3 linked regions of the Homo sapiens genome follow. The protein of the gene in region 1 interacts with the protein of each later gene in a biochemical or structural test. Each region holds a gene or a part of one and is shown in the gene's direction. Other genes may lie near its edges. The genes, in order: CNTN1, SCN3A and USP25.

Region 1 (7,685 bases):
ATTTTGTTGCTTAATCCTCATTTGTATGTCTGATTTGTTTTCTAATTAGGAAGTACTTTGCAGAAAAAGACTACACTTATAATCTTTTTGTATACCCCACCACATTGAACACAGTCCTATAATAAGTAGCCTTAAAGATTCTTGTTCAGGAAGCATCATCCTAAGAAGCTGGATGGGTGCAGCAATGATTTGGGGATATTTTTTTGGTAGAAGGCTATGCCTTGGGAGGAAACTTCCTCTGGCTTTATGATCCTCTCCATGAGGAGTAATGGATGACATAAGGTGTTTCTATATCTTTTCATAGAATGACTCGGTTCTACAGTAGGGATTATGACTATGTACTGGTTCTATGTATTCTCTTGTATCTTGTGTCCCTTGAGACCAACTAGGAAGAGCTGAAATAGACAATTTATATTTCTGTATACAAAATATGTCCTGTAATTGCCTTATTTCAAAAAAAATCAACAAATTCTCCAATTTCCATCTATTTCTACATGTAAATTGGCCATGGTCTCTATCATATCCCACAACTTATTCTAACTCACCAGTAAGCTCCTCCTCAATTCCAATGTTTGTTTTCTTTTTATTGATGTATTATCGATTGTTCTCTTCTGACCTTCTATTTTCCATATTGTCCATCTTCTTGAAATTTTGCTCCTTGACACCACAATGCTCTGATAGCGTACTTTTTTCTTAATTTTTCTAACTTTCCTTTCTTTGTCTCCCTCTTATCTTCTCTTTCTACTTCTAGCTTTCAAGCAAATCCCCCAAATTGATGACAATTTATCTTATTGAAAATAAAGTTCTCCTTCTGCATTTCCATTCCTAATCTCCCTCCCATTAGCCATTTCCTTTACACTTACCCTATCGGCTAAGAGCACAGGCTTTGGGAGGAAGCCTGCAGGTGTTAATATTTATGTATCATGATGCAGTTAAGCGAACATCAGCAAGTCAACTGGGGATTATCATAGCACTTACGTGAGAGGATTTTGTGATTTGTAAAATATTAAGTGAGATAATGCGTGTTAAACATTCAAAATAAGGTTTGGCCCATGGTAATTACTCATAAAGAATAGCTATTAATAATAGAAGTGCTATTGTAGCAATTGTAATGCACAAGGTGAAAACTGGTTTTGCTTTTTCCCCATCAATAGGCATCATTCCTAAACTGGCTTTTATCAATGGAGACTACAACTTTACAGGCTTTCTGGCTTGTGGTTAGTTACTTTTTAAGACTTTCTTTCCTCTAGTCCAAGTGTTCACCATATAGTCAGTAATTGATTCATTTTTATTTTCAACTCTAATTTGTATCTTTCTCTGCTTATTCCAGCACTAGTTTCTTCTGGCACTCCATGCCTGGATGAGTCCAGTAGGCAAGTTATCAAAACTTCCAATTTATAAGTCTATCTGCTTTAATCTAAGATGCCATGTATTATTGGTATAATGTGTTTTCAATTTTCATTAGTGCTTCTACTTTCCTTTGAAACTTTCACTGTACTTTAGTTCGTATCTTAAAAAGCACTGATTTTGGAGCAGGAGACTCAGGTTCAACTCCTGACAACAGGACTGATCCGTTGTGTGACCTTGGAAATGTAGCAGCAGGAGGATGGGGCATTATTTCACTTCAATAATATGAATGACCAACTGTGTAAAGTTACACTCAAAAGTCTATCTATTTAATATTCAATTGAAAATAATATCTTATTATTATAAGGACATCTAAAATCATTAAAGAAATACTGGGAATAAAGAAAAATCCACCAAATTCCGCAGTACAAAGAGATCCTATTTCAATCTTCTAGTCTTATTTCTATTAATATAAATAGGTATTTTTCAATTATAGATTTGAGTTTACAGTGAACATTCACTTTTGTATTTAGCTTTTTAAACTTAATATACCATAAACATTTATTCATTTCATTTAATATTCTTACTATCCATGTGTTTTTTGGCTGTCAATATTCTATGATAGATCTTCAGATTGTTTTCAGTTTTGCATCGTCAAGAACATGAACCTTTGTATACATTAATATTTGCATTTCTGACCATTTCCTTATGACACCTTAGAAGTTACCCAGGCAAAAGTGTAAATATTTTTAGCCTCATAACACTTACTGCCAAATTGCTTCCCCCAAAATGTAAGCACAGATTTATTCTCTACCAGTGGTTGTACCAGTTTGGCCATACTCTCATTAACACTTGATATTATTTTTAAAAATTGGGATCATTTTGATAGTACAAATTGTGTATCTAGTTATTCTTCTGAGTTATTGTTCCTATGATTTTGGATGAGTTCAAAAATGTTATATTTATAGGTTCTTTGTATTTTTTAATTTGTGAATTTCATTTGACTCTTTATTGGAGTGTTCATATTTTCTTCATGTAATAGGAAATCTGAGGTATACTGCAAAAATTGTCTGCATCTTGTTCTTTGCATTTTAAAAAATGCTTTCTAACACACAGAAATGTATAGCTTTACTGTAGTTTATAAATCTATTTGCAGTAGTGTCTCTTTGTAGCTTTCAGGTTCAGAAAACTTTCTACCACTTAACGGAGAATTGAATATAAAAACAACATGTGACGGTGCTATTGCTGAACTTCTTTCCTCCTTTGAAGCAGAATCTGGCTTATGTATATCATATGTATATCCCAGTGCGAAATGGCTCTGGGGACACATAAAATCCACTCAGTCTATTAAGATCCTATTATTCTTTAGGCAGCTCTCCCATGAAGTGAATAGTACCTTAATTCTTTCTGAGCTACTATTGTCCATTTTAAAAGAGCCACAGGGCAGAATGCACTATGGAAGATATTAATGGCCAGGTTACTCAGCCAGAGCAGGGCACATTGTTTGCACAATTATCTGAATGACTCAGGCACTAAATCTGCTTCTGCCAGGATTATCCAGATGGTCCTTAACTCAGTAGATAATTTTTCACTCCTGTACTTGATTTTGATGGTGTAGACCTGAGCATGTCACCACTTTTCCTGCACTGTCTTGTTACTACTCAATTTGCTTAGGGCTGGTTGCTTTAGTTTCTTTTATGAGAGGCAGGTTTGCCCGGTTCTCCAGAGCATAGGTGTTAAGAGTTATGCAGAGCTTTGCATGAAACCTAGCTCAGTCAGTTACTAGCAGCGTGCTTTGAGGCCAGCCACTTAATTTTTTTTTTTTTTTTTTTTTTTTTTTTACGGAGTCTCGCTCTGTCGCCCAGGCTGGAGTGCAGTGGCGTGATCTCAGCTCACTGCAAGCTCCGCCTCCTGGGTTCACATTATTTTCCTGCCTCAGCCTCCCGAGTAGCTGGGACTACAGGTGCCCATCACTACGCCCAGTTAATTTTTTTGTATTTTTAGTAGAGATGGGGTTTCACCGTGTTAGCGAGGATGGTCTTGATCTCCTGACCTTGTGATCCGCCCGCCTCGGCCTCCCAAAGTGCTGAGATTACAGGCGTGAGCCACCATGACCGGCCATGAGACCAGCCACTTAAATTTTTTTACAACATTGTTTTCTGTGTAAGAAACATATTCAGAGTTTGAAGTCCCTATTTCATTCTCCTCCCTCATAGTCGCCTTCTTCTAAGTACATTCTATATGTCATAACCACAGTTGTCTTTCTAAAACCAATTTCATCGTATTCTTCCTCTGCTGAAAATTTTTTGAGTTAGTTCCCCTTTTTTTGTATTAGTAAGATGTCTGAAGTCTTTTGCATTGCACCTAAAGTCCTTTATTAAATGGTACGTGGTAACTTCTCTAGATTCATTTTCTGATTAATCAAATTTCTTCCATCTCCAATCTCCCGTAATGTCAATCAACTGAACGGTTTGCCTTCTCCTAATGCATCTTGTTTCCTCTTTTCTCGCAACACCCTCCCATGTTCCCCATGTTCTATTCTCTACTATAAATAACCTGTTTTCTTGTCTGCTTTTTAACTGACCTAACCTTTTCATGCCTTGGGTCAGGTGCCACCATTTCTTGGAGGACTTCCCCTGAATTCCCAGTCTTAAATTTTGACTCCCTGTGGATATCCCTGCCGTGTCACTTACCATACTATATTGTACTGATTGGTTACTTGTCTCTTGCCTCCACCGTAAGTCCTTGAGGATAGACACCATATGTTATTTTTCTTTGTGTCTGATAGAGGACCTGACATAGAGTTGATACTTAATAAATATTTTCTGAAGAAATGAATAAAAGAAGGTTAAGACTAAATTAGTTTTTAGGATTTCAACAAATGAAGGATTCATATCTTTACCCTGGAAACCAATCAATAAAAGCTAAAAATTATGTCAATCTTCACAATATTTCAAAAATTAACTTCCTGGTTTTGTTGATTTATACAGAGTAAATAAAAGAGAGTTTTTTTTTAATGAGGAATTTTGTAATGAAAAGCATGCCTAGGACAGCCAATAATTCCAAATTGCTAAATCAGTCAATAAATATCTTTTAAATAATTCTGCATTTTAAAAGGAAAGAGGAATGCATAGTTACATGGATAATGTCGATGTATAAATTTAGCTGTGTTGGAATTAAATAATGGCAAAGTTAATTTCACTTTTCTTTATTTAATAAAAGGTCTTCCATTGGTGTCATCTTTGGTAGATTACAAAGCATGGTCACATGCATAGCCTTATTTGATCCTTCGTAACAGTTTTGAAAGTTAGATTCAAAGGCATGGTTATCCACATTTACAGATAAAAAAAAAAAGCTCAGAGAAGTAACTAATTTGCCCAAGGTTACACGTTAGTGGCAAATCTGGACAAGTAAGATGATCTTGCTCATAGTTGAGTGTCCCATGTGTTATGGTTGGCCCAGAACATTTCACTGAGAGATGACTGCCATGATTTTGTCTAGGTTAAGGACAACAATCTTGATAATAATAATCCCCTGAAAGTCCTGAGCAATCTAGTAAAAATGTATTGCATTATTACCTATATAGGGTTTTTACTTAGATTTTTAGTAATCTGAGAAGAAACCAGCTGACAGAACTTTTTGCTTTAAACATATTTTAAAGTCTTATATTTAGTTACTTGATCATTTAGAACACACACACATACACACACACACCATATTACCCTTTCTTTTGTTTGTTTTGAAGTATTTGCCTTTTATATTAGGTGACAAGTACAATGCTCTTTCCCTTACTTTTTTTTTAAAACTTGAATTATTAAAATATTTTTTTCAGCCAGGCATGGTGGCTCACGCCTGTAATCCCAGCACTTTGGGAGGACGAGGCGGGCAGATCATGAGGTCAGGAGTTTGAGACCAGCCTGGCCAACATGGTGAAACCCCATCTCTATTAAAAATACAAAAATTAGCTGGGCATGGTGGCACATGCCTATAATCCCAGCTACTCAGGAGGCTGAGGGAGGAGAATCATTTGAACCCGGGAGGCAGAGGTTGCAGGGAGCTGAGATCATGCCATTGCACTCCAGCCTGGGTGACAGGGTGAGACTCTGTCTCAAAATAAAAAAAAAAATAAAAAATAAACTGGATTTTCTTTGTTTAGTAGACAATGTTCAACTTTAGTCTTCAGGTTTTGGCTTAGCATATATTCTGTGTAATCTTGGAGAACCAGATAGGTCAAATGCATTTTTTAGGAAATAGCACAAGTGATGAAAAAGAAATTTATGAAAAACAGATGGGTACTTAGTAAGAATGGCAATCTATCCTAGTTTGAAAATTACAAACACCGAGATATAAGATTGATTTTTAAAAATTGACTTGTGCAAACATCTTCTCTATAATTGCACCTCAATTACTAACAATCACTTATTGAGCACTCACTCTGTGTTGGGCATTTAAAAAAAAATGTGTTGCACATGACCATCTCAAAACTTTACAAAACCAGTGAAAAGGATTTTTAAAGTTTATTATTCCGATTTTGCAGATCAGGGAAGTTAGTTATTAAAAAGTTAATGCATGGAGAGGCTAGAATTCACACCCAGATTGTCTGACTCTGAAGTCCAAGTTTTTAATTGCTGTGTTATTCAGCACCAACCCCCAGTGCTCATGATAGCTGGTTTTAGTACTTTGTGAGTCACGGTTTAAAATGCTGCTATTCTAAGTGACCGGAATCTATCCCTAGACCCTCAAATAAATTTAGTATTAATACAAGGAATTAAATCATTCTAAATTTGCATATGTTTTATTTATGAATATCTTATTGATATCTTTCACTACAGTAATTTACATGGTGCAGTTTCCCAAGCATGAATTGGACCATTACAATGTGTCATTTAAATATGCCTCTAATAGGCCAATCATTTGAATTTTGACACAAGCACCAGAAGTTTTTATGCATTTCTGCCCTAATTTTGCTTTCTAACATCTCAAACCATAAACAGTAATTCTCTCCTAAGGCTTCTAATCTGATAGTATTTAATTGTCATGGTTACTAAAAGTACAGATTTGTTAACTGTAACAGACAAGATGAATATTATAAATAATATTTATAATATTCTAGCTTGAAAAGCTGTTTACTGTAATAGAATTTTATCTCAGATAAAACTTTCCTTTGTAGAGTATTTTTATACATTAAATGTGGTGTAATATAATTTAAAATATTTGTAAATGCCTAATGGATTGACTTTATTTTTCTTTTGGTCTACTTATATTATTTTGGAGAGCATAACAACTTTCAGATTGCTTGAAAATTAACCTGGTTTCTCAAAAAATGTTATTTTCTAATTTTGGTTTCTGCACAAGTTGAGTGGTAATGAACCTAAGACATCAACTTTAAGTAAAACACTGTATTATTACATTCTTTCCTTTTCCCTTTTTCATTAAAGAATGGCAGACATACAGAAAACATTTGGCCCAATGAGCTATAACAAAGTATTCATACTATGAAATCAACACTCATTTCAGAAGAAAGAATCTTGTCAGCACCCAGGTACCCCGCTTCCAGCCCCACTTAATCACTATCGCCTTACTGTTCTCCAAAGATAGCTTCTGACTAATAAGACTGTAGAATAGTTTTGTCTGTTTTTAGAATCTACATAAACGGAATCATGAAGTATGCATTTTTGTATCGGATTTTTTTTTTTTTTCCCTAGAGACAGGGTCTTGCTCTGTTGCCCAGCCTGTTCTCGGACTCCTGGTCTCAAACGATCCTCCCTGCTCAGCCTCCCAGAGTACTGGGATTACAGGCATGAGCCATCATGCCTGGCCCAGATTCCTTTTGTTCAAAATTTTTTGTGAGCTGTGTCAATATTCTTGCATGTAGCAATAATTTATTTTCATTGTACTGTAGAATTCTATTGAATGAATGCCCCCAAAATATACATATTTATTCTATTGTTGAATACTTGGGTTGTTTCCAGTTTTGTGTTATTACTGATAGTTCTCCTATGCATGTTTTCAAATTTATTAGACATTCTTTTTCTTTTTTCTCTTTGAGACAGCGTTTCGCTCTTGTTGCCCAGGCTGGAGTGCAATGGTGCGATCTCGGCTCCCCGCAACCTCTGCCTCCCAGGTTCAAGTGATTATCCTGCCTCAGCCTCCCAAGTAGCTGAGATTACAGGAGCCTGCCACCATGCTCCGCTAATTTTTTGTATTTTTAATAGAGGCCATGTTGGCCAGGCTGGTCGTGAACTCCTGACCTCAGGTGATTCACCCACTTCAGCCTCCCAAAGTGCTGGAATTGCAGGCATGAGACACTGTGCCTGGCCCAGAATTGAATTATGCTA
Region 2 (7,963 bases), on another chromosome or scaffold:
ACTATAGATTCAGAATACACCACAATTCTTATATCCATTCTCCTGTTCAAGATATTTCTGTTCTTTCTTGTTTGACCTGTTTTCAATAATGCTTCCACAGGCATTCTTGTACACACACACATTTCTGTCAGGTATATGCCTAAGAGTGGCACTTGCTGGCTCACAGAGTAGACTCACGTTCAGTTGGTAATGCCAAACCATTTTTCTAAGTGGTTATACTAGTTTACATTCCTACCTGAAGTCTCTGACAGCTTCTGTAGCTCTAGATTCTCACAAACAGTATGATAAGCCTTTTTAAGTTGTAGCCATTCTGGTGGATGTGGAGTGGCACTTCATTAGTCCAGCAGAACAGTAGTATTCCTCCAATCACTGTCTGGGAAATAATGGTCTAGGAAACAAGAAAATTGGGCCAGAGTCTGGGAATCTTTTGGTAGATCTATGGATGTTACAAAAAGTATTCTTTGGCTATGAAGCTTATAAAATCAAATAGAAACCAGCATTATAGCTCCTACCCACAAAGGCTCTGAAGACCTTGAGTAATCAGAAACAGTAGACATGCACAGAGCAACCTATGAGTCCCAGCTGGAGGCTATTAGCTCTCTTCTAGTGTGAATTTCTGTGATTTATGCATGATATGTTTACAACATATGGTCAGACACCACTAAGGCTCCAGAGACCTTATGTTGGTAATCAATGACTATTTCACCTTAACCCTCTCAGAATCCACTCACTGAAGATTTGCAAACTACCTGTCGTTCTGTCTACAGAAAAAAAGTACGAAAGTCACAATGAAGTTAGAATCATAGCAAATGATACCACACCTCTGGTCACTCTTCCTTTATATAATTTTCTACTTTTAATGACAAGATAAATTAGTTTCTTCAGCAACAAAGAGTAAAGCTCTCTTTGCTGGCATTTATTTATTTTTCTTTTTTTCTATGAGGAATATCGCCACAATAATTATCATTTACTTTTCTTATTTTGTTCAAACCAGTTCTCATTAAAATGTGGCCCAGTATAACCTAAGAAAAATCAGTTCCTCAGAAGACGTCATCAGAAAACTCTTTGGAGCATCTGGATACCCAAAACTGAGTGATAGAATTAATATTCTATTAAATATTACTAGTAATGGTAAAATGAGTGTGGAGCAGTAGGGACTGGCACTTAATGAACATTTAGTTGAGAGACAGTGAGCAGGGCTAGTTTGTTCATGAGTAGAGAAGAAAAAGTTAAAAGTGCCTAGAAAATAGGAATCTTTCATGACAGAAAGTGTACACAATGAAACAATGAAATGTTATAAATTTACACTAAACGTGTGAGTATCAATGATCTAAATTAGTGGAAGCTGATTTCCTTTGTGTTCTTTCAGCATCTGACAAATGCTTGTATTATGAGTGATCTTACCCGATTACAACTGCTTGTGTTGGGATGAGATGTGAGGTGCTGTATTAGTCCATTTTCACACTGCCATAAAGAAACACCTGAGACTGGGTAATGTATAAAGAAAAAGAGGTTTAATGGACTCACTGTTCCACATGGCTGGGGAGGCCTCACAATCATGGTGGAATGTGAAGGAAGAGCAAAGGCACATCTTACATGGTGGCAGGCAAGAGAACGTGTGCAGGGGACACGTTCCTCTTTATAAAACCATCAGCTCTCATGAGACTTATTCATTATCACTAGAACAGCATGGGCAAAACTCGCCCCCATTATTCAATTACCTCCCACCAGGTGCCCCCCATGACATGTAGGGATTATGGGAGCTACAATTCAAGATGATATCTGACAATTCAAGATGATATCTGGGTGGGGACACAGCCAAACCATATCAGGTACTAACTACGTTTTACTTCCCTCACATTTCATTGCTTCTTCACCTGTAAAGTGTGTATAATAATACCTCATATGGGTGAAGTTTAAATGAACATATGTAAAGTGCTTAGAACAATGTCTGGCACATAGTACCAATAAATGTTAGTTTTGTTATTGTTACTAATATTATTAAATGTCTTCATCATTACCTGAGGCTCTTCCCCTACCCTCCCCAATTCTGGCCAGATAGCCAAGGCTATTATTGCCTAAGTGGAATTGTCGTTGGAGATGGACAGAAGAATTGTCAAATTCTTGTGCTTTATATTTAAATTCTTGTGTTAGGGGTTGAATTGTGCCTCCTCTCAAAAAGTTCTAATTCTGAGTAATTCAGAATATGCCCTTATTTTGAAATAGGGTATTTACAGAGATAATCAGGTTAAAATTAGGTTATGAGGGCGGACCCTAAACCAAAGTGACTGGTGTCCTTATAAAGAGGAGAAAATTTGACACAGAGGCATGCACAGAGGGAGGAGTACGTAAAGACAGTGATGCAGGGAGTGCACCATGTAAAGACAGAGACAGAGACTGGAGTTATGCTGCCACAAACCAAGGAACATCTGGGGCTACTAAAAGCTAAGAGAAGCAAGAAAGTATCCTTCCCCTGCAGGTTTCAGAGGAAGCATGATCATGCTGACAACTTGATTCTGGCCTCTGAGTAGCCAGAATTGTGAAAAAAATGATTTCTGTGTCTAAGCCCCTCAGGATGGCAGTTTGTTACAGCAGCCCTAGTAAACTGATACATTAGACATAAGACAAAAAGATTTCAAGGGAAAACAAGTGGCTCCAGCTTACCTTTGGTACAGAAAGAAGAGACCCAAGCAAAAACTCTTTTGAGTCTGTGAAGGAAGTTATGAAGAAGGAAAGGAGTCTCTGATAAGGGCTCCTTACATAGTTTGCCAATCTAGGATTAGCTAAAAAGATGAAAAGATGAGAAGTTTCCATCTATTTACACTATTCTAGTGTGGCAGAGATTGTGCCTCGCTTGCCTGAAGCCTGCAGAGTGCATTACATCCCATGGTTTACAAACAGCAGAACAGAGATGGCTGTGTGAGGCGCCTGGGGCAGGGAGGAAGGCTTAAGTCAGCCAATTACAGCCAAGAGTGACCCTGGGAACATGCTGCTTTTTCTTCTCTCCTCCTAAAGGACAGGAACAAAAGTTTCCTTAGAGGAAGAAGTGACAAAGAGGGGATGCTGCCATGCAAAGCTGGAGGGATGCTATTCCCGGGGCCCAGTGGGCCTGTGGGTACGTTAGTAGATATGAGGGATAATGATGGTCATGGATCATGCAGGACTCCTGGCCTCAGTGGATGCCCATGTGGAGAAAGGGGGAACGGGATCATACTCTGCTTTCTCTATATATGTACACAATCCTGAACTTAGATCAGTCTCCATGAGAAGGAGAGATAGAAGAGGAAAATCATGTATTGGTTGAATGCAAACCCAAAATCATTGGGAAAAGCCTCAAGTAATTTAGTTTACCTGGAACTGACTAGATTTATTTTTCTGCCATTAGACAAAATGGGGGCCACAATTGAAAACGAAGTATGTAATTAACAGTTCTTGAACACATGGCTGGGAAATATGGTATCAGCTATATTTGTTTTTCTTCTTTGTATGAGCTCCTTTATGGCAGGCACTGTGTGTTTCTCTCTGTGTCTTTTCAAGTCTAATATAATACTTGACATCATTTTTGTCCATCCATACAGTTGGTTTGTCAATATGAATGTATTTATTTAATTGATGATAAACTGTAATAAAATCATAGTTGTTTGCTCTAAAGTAGATATGAAAGGTCAGATGAAACAATAACATACATCTGGATTGAGAAATATCTTAATAACTGATGGATTATTTTTATTTTCTTTATGTATTGTGTGCTTCAATATCCTAATAAATAATATTAGCTAGGTTCACTGATGTATAGAATCTTTTTCTACATTTAGATATTTCTTGCAAATGTTTTACCAGAAAGCAACACAAAAATACTATCAGTGAGTATGTGTTTACACTGTTCTCTAAGGAGTCAAATTCCTCACCTTGAAAATAATTCATCCCAGGAAGAGAAAAGGTTTTCAAAAGACTAGAGCAGGCCACAAGGGAGCTTTCGCAAAACTCTACACGTAAAGGGTAATGTAAACTTAAAACCTATTTTTCAAACAGTAATTTATATATCTTTTAATTTTAGTAGTTTATGTGTGAAACAATCATGCAAAACAACAAAGTGATAAAATTTTTTAAAAAAATTAGTGAGATGCAAATAACTGAATATGTAAAAGGTCTCATACATATTTATATGTAGTAGATAAGTTACATTTTTTTAGTGTGTTGGGAAATTTTAGCTCACATCACCTCTCTACTGTCATCTTGGGGCACTTTCATGACTACCCATGCTTCATGCAGGTTTACTTTCCTCCCTGTGACAGAGGATAATGGGAATGTTTTTTCTTTGGCTCAATTTTGTGTGTGTCCGCCAGTAGATGGCGGTACCACTTTGAGTGCGATCGGCCTTTTTTTCTTTCTTTTTTTTTTTCCTCAAAGCTGTTTTCTGATATATGTTGGGTACCATAGAGTGAATCTCAGAACAGGAAGCGGAGGCATAAGCAGAGAGGATTCTGGAAAGGTCTCTTTGTTTTCTTATCCACAGAGAAAGAAAGAAAAAAAATTGTAACTAATTTGTAAACCTCTGTGGTCAAAAAAAAAAAAAAAAAAAAAAGCTGAACAGCTGCAGAGGAAGACACGTTATACCCTAACCATCTTGGATGCTGGGCTTTGTTATGCTGTAATTCATAAGGCTCTGTTTTATCAGGTAAGCTGACAAAACATTTCATTATCTGCACCATAGAACCTAGCTACCAGGTCATTTTCCTTACTTTAAAATCATCTTCATGCTGCTATTTTTAACCCAGTGTTGTTTAAATGTAAATTACAGGAACCAAAGGCATCGTTTGATGTGTAAACTGCTTACTATTTCTTTATCTTTCAAAGAAAATAGAGCCTGTCTGGAAATGGTGATTTATGGTACATACTAGGCATCAATGGTCTTGTGTTTTTGTAGATGCTTATGATTAATTGTATTCAGAAAAAATATTTTTTATTATACTTAAAGCTAGTCTAATGAGTTTCCTGGCTGTATGTCATCTATTTAAATGCCCAGTGTGTCCAGTATTTTTTAAACATAAATGTATAGTGAAATTGGAACTATCATTCTTGTGCTTTAGTTTTTTATTTAACAGCTTTAGAGAGGCCATGCATATAGGGAGTGATAACAATATAGAGGTGTTTGGCTTTGTGAAATACACTATCATTTTTCTCTAAAATCTGTTTTCATAGAGAAAAGAACACCAATACTAACCATTTAAAAGAGGTTGAACCTTCAAAAAATAAAATAATCTCTATATGTTCCATAATATGCTACTTCTTTATCCTTTAATATATTCATTTTATATTAAATGTTTACCTTTTAATTTATTGATTTAAAGATTATTATATATTCTTAATTGTTCTATAAGCTTGATAGATTGCTGTTTTTCTGTATATATTTAATAACTGTTTATTTTTATTAATTACCAGGAAGAACCACTGGAGCCATAAAACAATAATTTACTTTATCTATGATCCATATTGTCTGTAGTTGTATTTAGAATATTCTATATCATAACCATAAATGTTTCATTCAGTTAGCCACCACATAATTAGAATAAGAAATTATTGACAGAAAATCTATACATATTAATTGAAAGATAAGTTTTAAAAATCATACAGGGTTTTAAAATACACAACAGGTAGTATAATGTGGCTTATGAGGACAAAGATAAAGGCATAAGTGCTTGTAGGAATTTGCATGGAAACATTTCATCACATTCACTCCAAATAGAGTGTGCCCTATATGAAATGAAGACTTCTGATTTCAACAGGGCTTCCAGTCAGTACTGGCTAAAAGGGCTTCAAAAATAGAACTTAAGGCCTCCAAACTGTAATTCCTAATGATATGTTGAAAAATATTGACATCTCACTTAATATTTTACATTGAGTAGCAATAATAGTCCCCCCAAAAACATTTCAAAATAGTGGTTGCCTGAGAGGAGAGCCCTGGGTCTTGTCTATTTCAGAAGAATTCCTACCATAGGAGATAAAGAAAACTATTTCTTTGGACAGGGTTCCCAGAAATGGCTGTTAATTAACTTGAGTGTATTGTACACACCATGCTTCTCTACAGGTGACTAAATGTGAGTAACTTTGTTCTGAGTAAGCATCAGAGCTGGTCTTGATTGAACTGGTTTACATTTATGAATGAATGCTTAATTTTGGCCCCAAATGTTAGCTTTTATTTTTCTTGGTATAGTTGCAACAGTCTCTTAGTTATTCATCTATACATGTGGTCGCCATGTGAAAAAGCAAATACACTCAGAGTTCTTCACTTCACAAAATGCGCTCTTTCAAAAATTTCGGAAATTAAACCTGCTTTGATTAAATGATATATCAAACACATTTGAATAACTTACTCTTTAAAAGAATGTAGTGGTGATTTCATTTGTAAAGTTGAGAAAAATGCTGTGATTTATTTGAGTACTGAAGATAAAAAGGTTGAACCCTGAGCTGAAAGTCTTGGGATCTGGTTCATGTTCTGCTACTAGTGAGTTTTGTTGTCTCAGAAAAGACCCCAAGTATCACTGAAGAGCATTTTCCTTGCCTACAAAGGAAGGAAATTAGAATCAAAGCTGTATAAGAATACTTTGTTTTTAAAATTTTCTGATCCTCATTTATTTGGATTTTTCTTCAGTTGGTTTCTCAGCTTAATTAAGATACAACTTTGACTCTCACTGAGTTGTAAATTATGATTGATGTGCTAAACATGAAAGTGGTAAAATAGAGAAATAGGGGCGTTTCTTGGCCAGTTCCTTCTGTAGTGGAAACAAGCAGGAAACAACATGGAGAAGTGGTTAAGAGCAAGAGCTTGGCAGGTTACATTTTATGGCCACTATTACCTGACAAGTTATTTAAACTCTCTGAGCCTTTATTACATCATCTTTAAAATAGGAATAATAATGCCTGTGTTACAGGATTGTGTAACTAAAATAATGTCTGTTCAGTGCTTGGTATAGATCCTGGAACATGATTACGAACCTCCTTCCTCTCTCTCCCTGCCATCCTAACTCACATCAAAAGGAACAGGACAAACATAAAGGCATAAATTTTCATCATTGTTATTATTGTTATCGTTAGTGCTGGTGATATAATATCTTCCACCACAACAGGAAGGATAGAATAAAACTGCCAAATAATTATGTACCTGAAAAGTGAATAATTCTCATCCTGGAAGGATGCCCTTGCTGAAACAACAACAATTGTGTACCTATAATAGTATCACTTAGTGTTAACATTCCAGGCAATTCCTGGAGAGTTTATAGAACTCATAATGCCTTCCAGAAGACAGTTATTTATGCCCAATATGTTATCACGGACTTCAAAACTTTCTTCTTCTTATGAAAATAGAGGCAAAGGGCCTTATTTCACGTTGCCTTAAGAGGATATACCTGTTAGACGAAGTTTCTGTAAAGATTCACAAAGGGAATCTAGGTTTCACCAAAACCACATTTAAACGCCAAGTAATTTCTACTAAGACCACCAGATAACTGAACCTAAATCTCAGGAAAGTCTTTGCTATGTGATCAACTCACAAACTCTCTAATGCTTCAATTCTATTAACGGTACAATAAGATGTGGAAAGGCAAATTGTGCTTGATGAATGGTTGATGGACTGCAAAATCCCTGCTTTCCTCCAAAGGTTGTTTCTAAGTGTAGCTTCGTGCTCCTGACAGCTGTGTGCTACTGGGGTCTTTGGGAGCTAGAACTTGGATGACCTTTCAGCACCCCAGGCCTCCTAATCCTTCCCTTCAACCACCCTAGGCCTCTTTAAACTGACTCAAGTAACTGCGCTGTCAGCTTCATCTTCATGGCAGCCAAGATGACTTAATGGACTCTTGATTAGGCAGATCTGAGAGGGCTAAGAGCTTGGGAGGCTTAAAAATATGAGGGTAGTGTTTCTCAACTAGACAAATGCGGTGCTTGGAATTTGTTGCTCATCTGTCTC
Region 3 (7,685 bases), on another chromosome or scaffold:
TATAAATTTTTTTTTGAGTACTCCCTCTCATAAGTTATTTTATCACAGGATTTTGATGCTTTGGTTAAGTATAAGTGCCATTCAACATCACGTTGAAGAAGACAGAGAAGACTTGAGCTACTAAGTCATGGTTTTAACCAGTGTCTTTTTCTTTGGGCTAGAAATTCTAATGTAAAGAATTATTTTCGAAGGATAGTTGTGAGATTTCTTTTTTTCCTGATCATATATTATACCCACTCTTGGAATTTTCAAGAGGTGTGGAAAACTTTTAGAAAGAGGTTGAGTTTTAACTAAACTGTGTACCCAGTTACTTGTCAGGTCCGCATTGTGGTGATACATATAACAATGTCAGTGCCCACATCCTGTGCCTAAGATTGCAGTGAAGAAAACAAAGGTGGTATTAAAGTTTTTGTTATTGTTTTATTTCCTTTCAGCATTGGTTTACTGAATTACCACCTGTGTTAACATTTGAATTGTCAAGATTTGAATTTAATCAGGCATTGGGAAGACCAGAAAAAATTCACAACAAATTAGAATTTCCCCAAGTTTTATATTTGGACAGGTATGGTTTGATATACTGCATGACTTAGTTTGAAACAGTTTAGTAAGGGAGAAAATATTGTTTAGAGGAAAATTCTGCATAATTTTCTTAGAATTAATTTCTACTTTTGCATAATATACCTAATACCATTTGTCAAGGTAGATGAAATTTACTTTGTATTAGAAAAGTATAGTTTTTGGGAATAATGTTATAAGGAAATTTAAAAAAGATGAATTTTGTAATCTTAAAATTCAGAATTTTAAAAAATACCATTTTGTATTATCTACCTTACATCTTATACAATTTTGAATGAATTGATGCTTTGTGGTGATGTCTGTACTTAATATTGTATCTATCTATCTTTCTGTCTTTCTTTCTGTCTCTCTGTCTTCCTGTCTTTCTGTCTTCCTGTTTTCCTGTCTTTCTTTCTTTTGTTTTTTTCTGTCTGTCTTTCTGTCTATCTTTCTGTCTTTCCTTCTTTTTTGTTTTGAGACAGAGTCTTGCTCTGTCGCCCAGGCTGGAGTGCAGTGGTGCGATCTTGGCTCACTGCAAACACCATCTCCTGGGTTCAAATGATTCTCCTGTCTCAGCTTCCCGAGTAGCTGGGATTACAGACACCCACCATCGTGGCTGGCTAATTTTTGTATTTTAGTAGAGACGAGATTTCACCATGTTGGCCAGGCTGGTCTTGAACTCCTGACCTCAGGTGATCCTCCCGCCTTGGCGTCCCAGAGTGGTAGGCCGGGTACGCTGGCATCTGGCCATATTGCATCTACTTTCATGATATTCGGAAATGCTAATGATTACCTTTTTCTGATAGATACATGCACAGAAACAGAGAAATAACAAGAATTAAGAGGGAAGAGATCAAGAGACTGAAAGATTACCTCACGGTATTACAACAAAGGCTAGAAAGGTATTTTAACTTTTATGAAATTAGGAGATAATTATCAGAAACCATGTATTTGGTGACTAGATTTTTAATTTCAAATTTGCTTTGAGTGATTTATAATTTTAGGAGTAGTTAATATTGTGTGAATAGTTTTGAGTTTTGCTTGAAACTAAAAATCTATAGTAGACTTTAAAAAATTATTCTAGTGTTTAAAATTAAATATCTCATTGTCAACAGGTAATGTTCCTACTGCTGAAAATAGATACAAAGTTAAATGAATATAGTTTTGACCTTCCTTTTTGCATGAAACTAAAGATTACTCTTGAGATTTTCATTAAAATGAATGGTATCTGAGTTTTTCTCCTTAAAACAGGATACAAACTCAGCTGCCTACCAAGTCTTCTCAGCAGCTTCGTAAAGGAGGAAATTGTGTCAGGTGTAAGATGGTATGTGCCGGGAGCCTAGAGAGCAATCTGTGTGTACAGGGAATGAATGCCATTCCATACCAGTGGATGGTACCATGTATGAGTATGGCCTCACTGTTGTCTATTGATTTGGATCATTTCTAAAAGACGTCAGAATCTGGACTGAGAAATGTTCTACAGGCCAGACAGAAATCTAAAGGCTGAAATGTCACAAGTCATTTCAGTTTGCAAACCCCAATCTGCTCTGCATTCCCCTATTTTAGGAATTTTCAAATTAGTAGTCTAAAACTTCTTACATCAAATAGTATATTGTATTTTAATGATTTTTATTCTTAAAAAGTATGAATAATCATATTGAAACATGATTAGTGGTAAAAGATAGGAGGATAGTACACATCACTGTCTTGATCATGAGACCAGATGCCAGATCTAAAAATAAAAACAGTCTCAGGAGATGTCAGTTTTCATCTTCCTATTGAGTTACAATTTAGAACAGCATTTACAGATTATAACAGTATATACTCACATTCAGTCCCAATCGGCCTTGGTTTCCTGTCTTTGGGGAACTTTTAATGTTTTTCTTAAGTGTATATTCAGTTTTACCATCTTCGTTTTAAAGCAAATGAATTTTATTGCTGAGGAAGTTTTATTGAAGTATCGTATCACGTTTTATAATAATAATAAAGGCCCAAATATGCTGTATATAGAAATAAAAGCATTTGTACATTTTATGATTAACAGATATTTAAGCTATGGTTCCGGTCCCAAACGATTCCCCTTGGTAGATGTTCTTCAGTATGCATTGGAATTTGCCTCAAGTAAACCTGTTTGCACTTCTCCTGTTGACGATATTGACGCTAGTTCCCCACCTAGTGGTTCCATACCATCACAGACATTACCAAGGTAAAAAGTAATCCTGATGCAAGAGACAGTTGTTACCTTTATTACACAATAATGTAACTGCTGCCTTTAAAGACAGTTTCTATAAAATGTATGCTTTGATTTACTTCAGTGAACTCCTAAGAGTAGATTCACTTAGAAGACTGTATGTCCTCTGGGAGTTTTTTTATTATTTCAGTAGATTTTATGGTTATGGATTAAAATTTTAATCACATTTTTTTTCAGTTCAGAATTATACTTTAGCATGTTTTGGTATGTACATATATAAGATTCAGCATTTTATGATCCATAAAAATAGTACTATCAAATTAGAATTTGTTTCTGTAATGTAAGCTGATAAGCCAGGGAAAATAATATCACCATGCGTAAGATTTTCTTGTTTTTTAGAAATAAATATGATTAAGCTGTTTTAACTCTAAAGCTACAACTTCATCTTATAATAATTTAGTTCTTATGTATTAAAAATCTCATTTGGATGTTAGATCAATCCACATATTTCTTTAAGATTTTTTCTTTTGAATTACAAGCCAATTTAATACTGTGGGTTTGGCACGATCTTTGTCAAGAGTTTCAGCTTGAAAGGTTAATAAGAAATACTCTATGCTTTGATACAGCACAACAGAACAACAGGGAGCCCTATCTTCAGAACTGCCAAGCACATCACCTTCATCAGTTGCTGCCATTTCATCGAGATCAGTAATACACAAACCATTTACTCAGTCCCGGATACCTCCAGATTTGCCCATGCATCCGGCACCAAGGCACATAACGGAGGAAGAACTTTCTGTGCTGGAAAGTTGTTTACATCGCTGGAGGACAGAAATAGAAAATGACACCAGAGGTAAGAAGTGTCTCATAGCATGGTTACTGTCACCTCAGATGGATATGTGTAATGTTAATATTGAGAAGGGAAATCACGTCTGGATTTTATATTTAAATATTATAGTCATTTTTCTTTTCCAGAAAGGGTTTTAAGATAAACTAGTTTGGCTCCCCATTTTTATAATCTCAATATCAGGTTCACAGGGACCAAAAGATTTTCCCTGGATTGCTTAGCTGATTAATGACATAGCAGATGGCCTGATTTTCTAGTTTGCTGCTCTAAATTTATATCAAACTGGTATTCACAGTTACTCCATTGGAGAAATGTCATACAATATCAATGTTTGTACATATCAATTAGGTACTAAATCTAAGTTTGCACAGGGAGTTCCGGTGATTAAAAAATTTTCTTTGGGCTTAAGAATTAGAAATGTGAATTTTAATTTTTAATAGCTCTAACAGATTTATGAGTATCTATGATCCCATTACTAGTCTGTAACAGAGTTTTTACTGGCATGCAGCAAAATAAGAAAAATAAGGACAGTGCTCTGGGTGGGGTGTGTGCACTTGTGTGCGTGTGCGTGTGTGTGTGTGTGTGTGTGTGTGTGTGTGTGTGTGTGTCAAGTTGCCATCTGTCCTTTCTTGGAAGGAACTCTCTTTTATTCTTTTCTATTCTATTTTTTCTTTTTTTTCAGAATAAGTTATTCTGAACTTTTCTCTTTCCTACTTTGCTGCTGTTAAAGTGTACTTAAAAAAATGGATTATGGTAGATTTTATTACATTTTTTTCCTTAAATGTGAAAATATAATTCCCTATTATCATTCCCCAATTTTATGCTGATTTATTGATTTTTGAAAAAAATGAACTATGTGACATGGTTGGAATTATATTGAACAATATTGATTGTTGGATATTATATGACCAACTTAACTCTTTATAGACAATATTTGAAAAAGAATGGCCCTAATTTAGTAAGAAGTACATAAGGTATGATGGTGACTAACAGCATTAGTAGCTGTCAAGATTTTCTTTAGTATTTTTCAAATAAGAGGGAATTTTTAAAAATATTTGAACTCATTAACAAACATTAATCAAGCAAATAGTGTTGATGAAGCACTATATTAGGCGTTGGGTAATTTTCTACTCCTCATGGCAGGTTGTTTTTAAAAGATTACATTCAGAGGAGTGGAAGCTAGGAAGCTTTTGACACCTAAGTAGTGGCATTGAGGGAGGGAAGAAGTGAATGTACTTAAAATACTCTTTGGAGACAACTGACAGATGTGGGTCATTGGCTAGAGGTAAGAGAGAGGGACGAATCGAATGATTCTCTCAGTTCATAATGGTATGAATAACCAAATAGAATGTATTTTGGAAAAAAGGTAAAGCAGTGGGCAAAGAGGTTCCCACTCAGGGGAGGAAAGAGAAATATGATGAGTTCTCTTTTGGCCATTTTAAGTTTGAAGAGCTTTTTTGAGACGGAGTCTCGCTCTGTCACCAGGCTGGAGTGCAGTGGCATGAACTCGGGCTCACTCCAGCCTCTGCCTCCCAGGTTCAAGCGATTCTCCTGCCTCAGCCTCCCAAGTAGCTGGGATTACAGTTGTGTGCCACCACACCCAACTAATTTTTGTATTTTTAGTAGAGATGGGGTTTCACCATGTTGGCCAGGGTGGTCTCAATCTCTTGACCTTGTTATCCGCCCACCTCAGCCTCCCAAAGTGCTGGGATTACAGGCGTGAGCCACCATGCCTGGCTGTTAAGATTTTTATATGTAATACTATGGATCAGGAAAGAAGGTTTTCCTCAGGATATTTTTTTTCTTTCTTTCATCCATATTGATGTTAGCAGTTAGCATTATTTTGTAAACTATTGTGTAATATTCCAACACACGGGTATGATGTAATTCATTTAATTCCCATATTGATATTTCCTAAATAGTGCTGGTCTTCGATATACATATTTATACACTTCTGTAAGTAGGATATGTTCTTTTTTATGTTCAGGGGTACATGTGCAGGTTTGCTATAAAGGTAAATTACATGTCTTGGGGGTTTGGTGTAAGATTATTTCATCATGCAGGTAATAAGCACAGTACCTGATAGGTGGTTTTTCCATCCTCACCCTGCTCCCACCCTCCACCCTAATGTAGGCCCCAATATCTGTTGTTTCCTTATGTCCACCATTTCTGGTTCAGAGTGTGTATATTTTAAATTTTGACGACTGTTTTAAAATTGTCACTCCAAAACATTAAACCAGTTTGCATTCCCACTGTGTGAGAGAGCCTGTCTCCCAGTATCCTCCCTAGCCCTGGACACTTTTTAGTAGTTTTTCACAATTGAAAAACTGGTATTTTAGTGTTTTGATTTGCATTCCCTTAGCTTCGAGTGAAGTTGGATATTTATATTGTTCTGTAAATTTCTTGTTTGTGACATTTGCCCATTTTTTAAGTATTGAGCTATTTGTATTTTTCTTATTACTTAATAGAAAGTTTAATGTATTGTGGATATTAACACTTTACCTATAATATCACATATGCTGCAGATATTATTTTCCCAGTTTTTCATTTGATTTTATGTTGGTTTTGTTTTCTTTTTATAATGTAGATTTTTTAAAGTGTTGGGCAGGGAGGATCTTATCTTTTCCTATAAGGTTACTAGTTTTCTGACAGGCTTAAGACAGGTCTTTCCCCACTCTAAAGTTAGCCAGTTTCTTTTATAGTTTTTCAAGGTTTCTTCCTGATTGGTTCAGCAGCTTCACAATATGATGTGGTTACAATCTAACCGTTTCCTTATTGACAGATATTTAGGTTATCTCTTTTTTAAAAATTATTGTGGACAATATGACTGTGAACATCCCTATCTGAACAATTTTGTAGGATTATTTTCTACTAGAAGTAGAAATAATTGTCATGGGAGTGCCATAATTTTATTTTCACTGGTGATTATAGTCGATTTTTATTCAGTTATGTGTGTGTACAAGATATGTGGTGAACATGTTTTACTTTGTTCTTAAGTTTACTTGTGTTATAGCAATATGTAAGGAAGCTTAGCTTTCATTTTCATTGAAACTCTCCTTTATAGATTTGAACAAAATTCACTTTTATTGGCTCTGCACATTTTCTAGATAAATCATATTTGTGTTGTTTTTAAAGTATGCATTTGTACTGTGTCTTTTATTAAGAATAACTATAATTCATTTTCTACAGATTTCAAATGGTAATGTTTTTTAAGAAAAGTTTTAGGAAAATTTTCCTATTCCTCTAACATGTTTGTAGGAAAAACATTAGTCCTTATCTTATAAGTAGAAACACATTTGCTGTTAATCATTAAATGACACCTTATATCCTTAGATTTGCAGGAAAGCATATCCAGAATCCATCGAACAATTGAATTAATGTACTCTGACAAATCTATGATACAAGTAAGTGAAATTTTGAGCTAGTAATCATTGTCAAAATTATTTACATATATTTTAATTTACCTTTACATTATCTTAATCTAATTTTTCTTTACATGTTTTGTTTTAAAATTTTGGCAAATCTTATTGTAAAATAATAAGGGCTTGCAATATGTACAATGTGACAGTTCATCTGAATGGGGAAACTTTTATAACAAATTTATAACAAAATTCATGACAAGTTTTCCCCATTCAGTTGTATTTTCACACCGTATGTGTTGTGTACCCTTACTATTTTACAGTAAAATCTACCAAAGTTTTTCAAAAGGCTATAGCATCTTTAAAAAGTCTTATGGGAGAAAATCTATGGTTGTTAAAGGATATTAAGATTTGGGAAGAAACTTAAGGACTCCATTACATTTTAACTTCTGGTGTATATCATATAATCTATTTTGTTAACCGTCAATTTAGAATTCTGAAGATGTAGACACATTTGCTATATGTAAAACTGCCCACTATAAGCTTTTTATTCAAATAAACAATTAGGCCAATGAGTATGTACACAATAAATACATTTTTAGTTTTTCAAAAATCATCTTTTTAATCTATCAACTTTGCATATCTTTAGCTTATTCAGATTCCGTCTTTTTAAAGTTTTATAGTTTAGTTTTTTTCAAACTTTTAAGCCCAGCCAGTTCTCTCTCATTTAAAA

Evidence for each region.
Region 2: the proteins of CNTN1 (region 1) and SCN3A form a complex in vitro, tested with the Homo sapiens proteins (one study listed by BioGRID).
Region 3: the proteins of CNTN1 (region 1) and USP25 form a complex in vitro, tested with the Homo sapiens proteins (one study listed by BioGRID).

Annotation. Positions count from the first base shown.
Region 1 is NC_000012.12:40,695,069-40,702,753, forward strand, and holds part of CNTN1 (contactin-1 isoform 1 precursor), read left to right. Parts: intron 1-7,685. UniProt on the Homo sapiens protein: Contactins mediate cell surface interactions during nervous system development.
Region 2 is NC_000002.12:165,200,538-165,208,500, reverse strand, and holds the start of SCN3A (sodium channel protein type 3 subunit alpha), read left to right. Parts: upstream 1-4,450; 5' UTR 4,451-4,678; intron 4,679-7,963. UniProt on the Homo sapiens protein: Pore-forming subunit of Nav1.3, a voltage-gated sodium (Nav) channel that directly mediates the depolarizing phase of action potentials in excitable membranes.
Region 3 is NC_000021.9:15,823,605-15,831,289, forward strand, and holds part of USP25 (ubiquitin carboxyl-terminal hydrolase 25), read left to right. Parts: intron 1-434; coding exon 435-562; intron 563-1,361; coding exon 1,362-1,457; intron 1,458-2,599; coding exon 2,600-2,761; intron 2,762-3,372; coding exon 3,373-3,599; intron 3,600-4,736; coding exon of another isoform or gene 4,737-4,747; exon of another isoform or gene 4,748-5,081; intron 5,082-6,926; coding exon 6,927-6,997; intron 6,998-7,685. UniProt on the Homo sapiens protein: Deubiquitinating enzyme that hydrolyzes ubiquitin moieties conjugated to substrates and thus, functions in various biological processes including inflammation and immune response.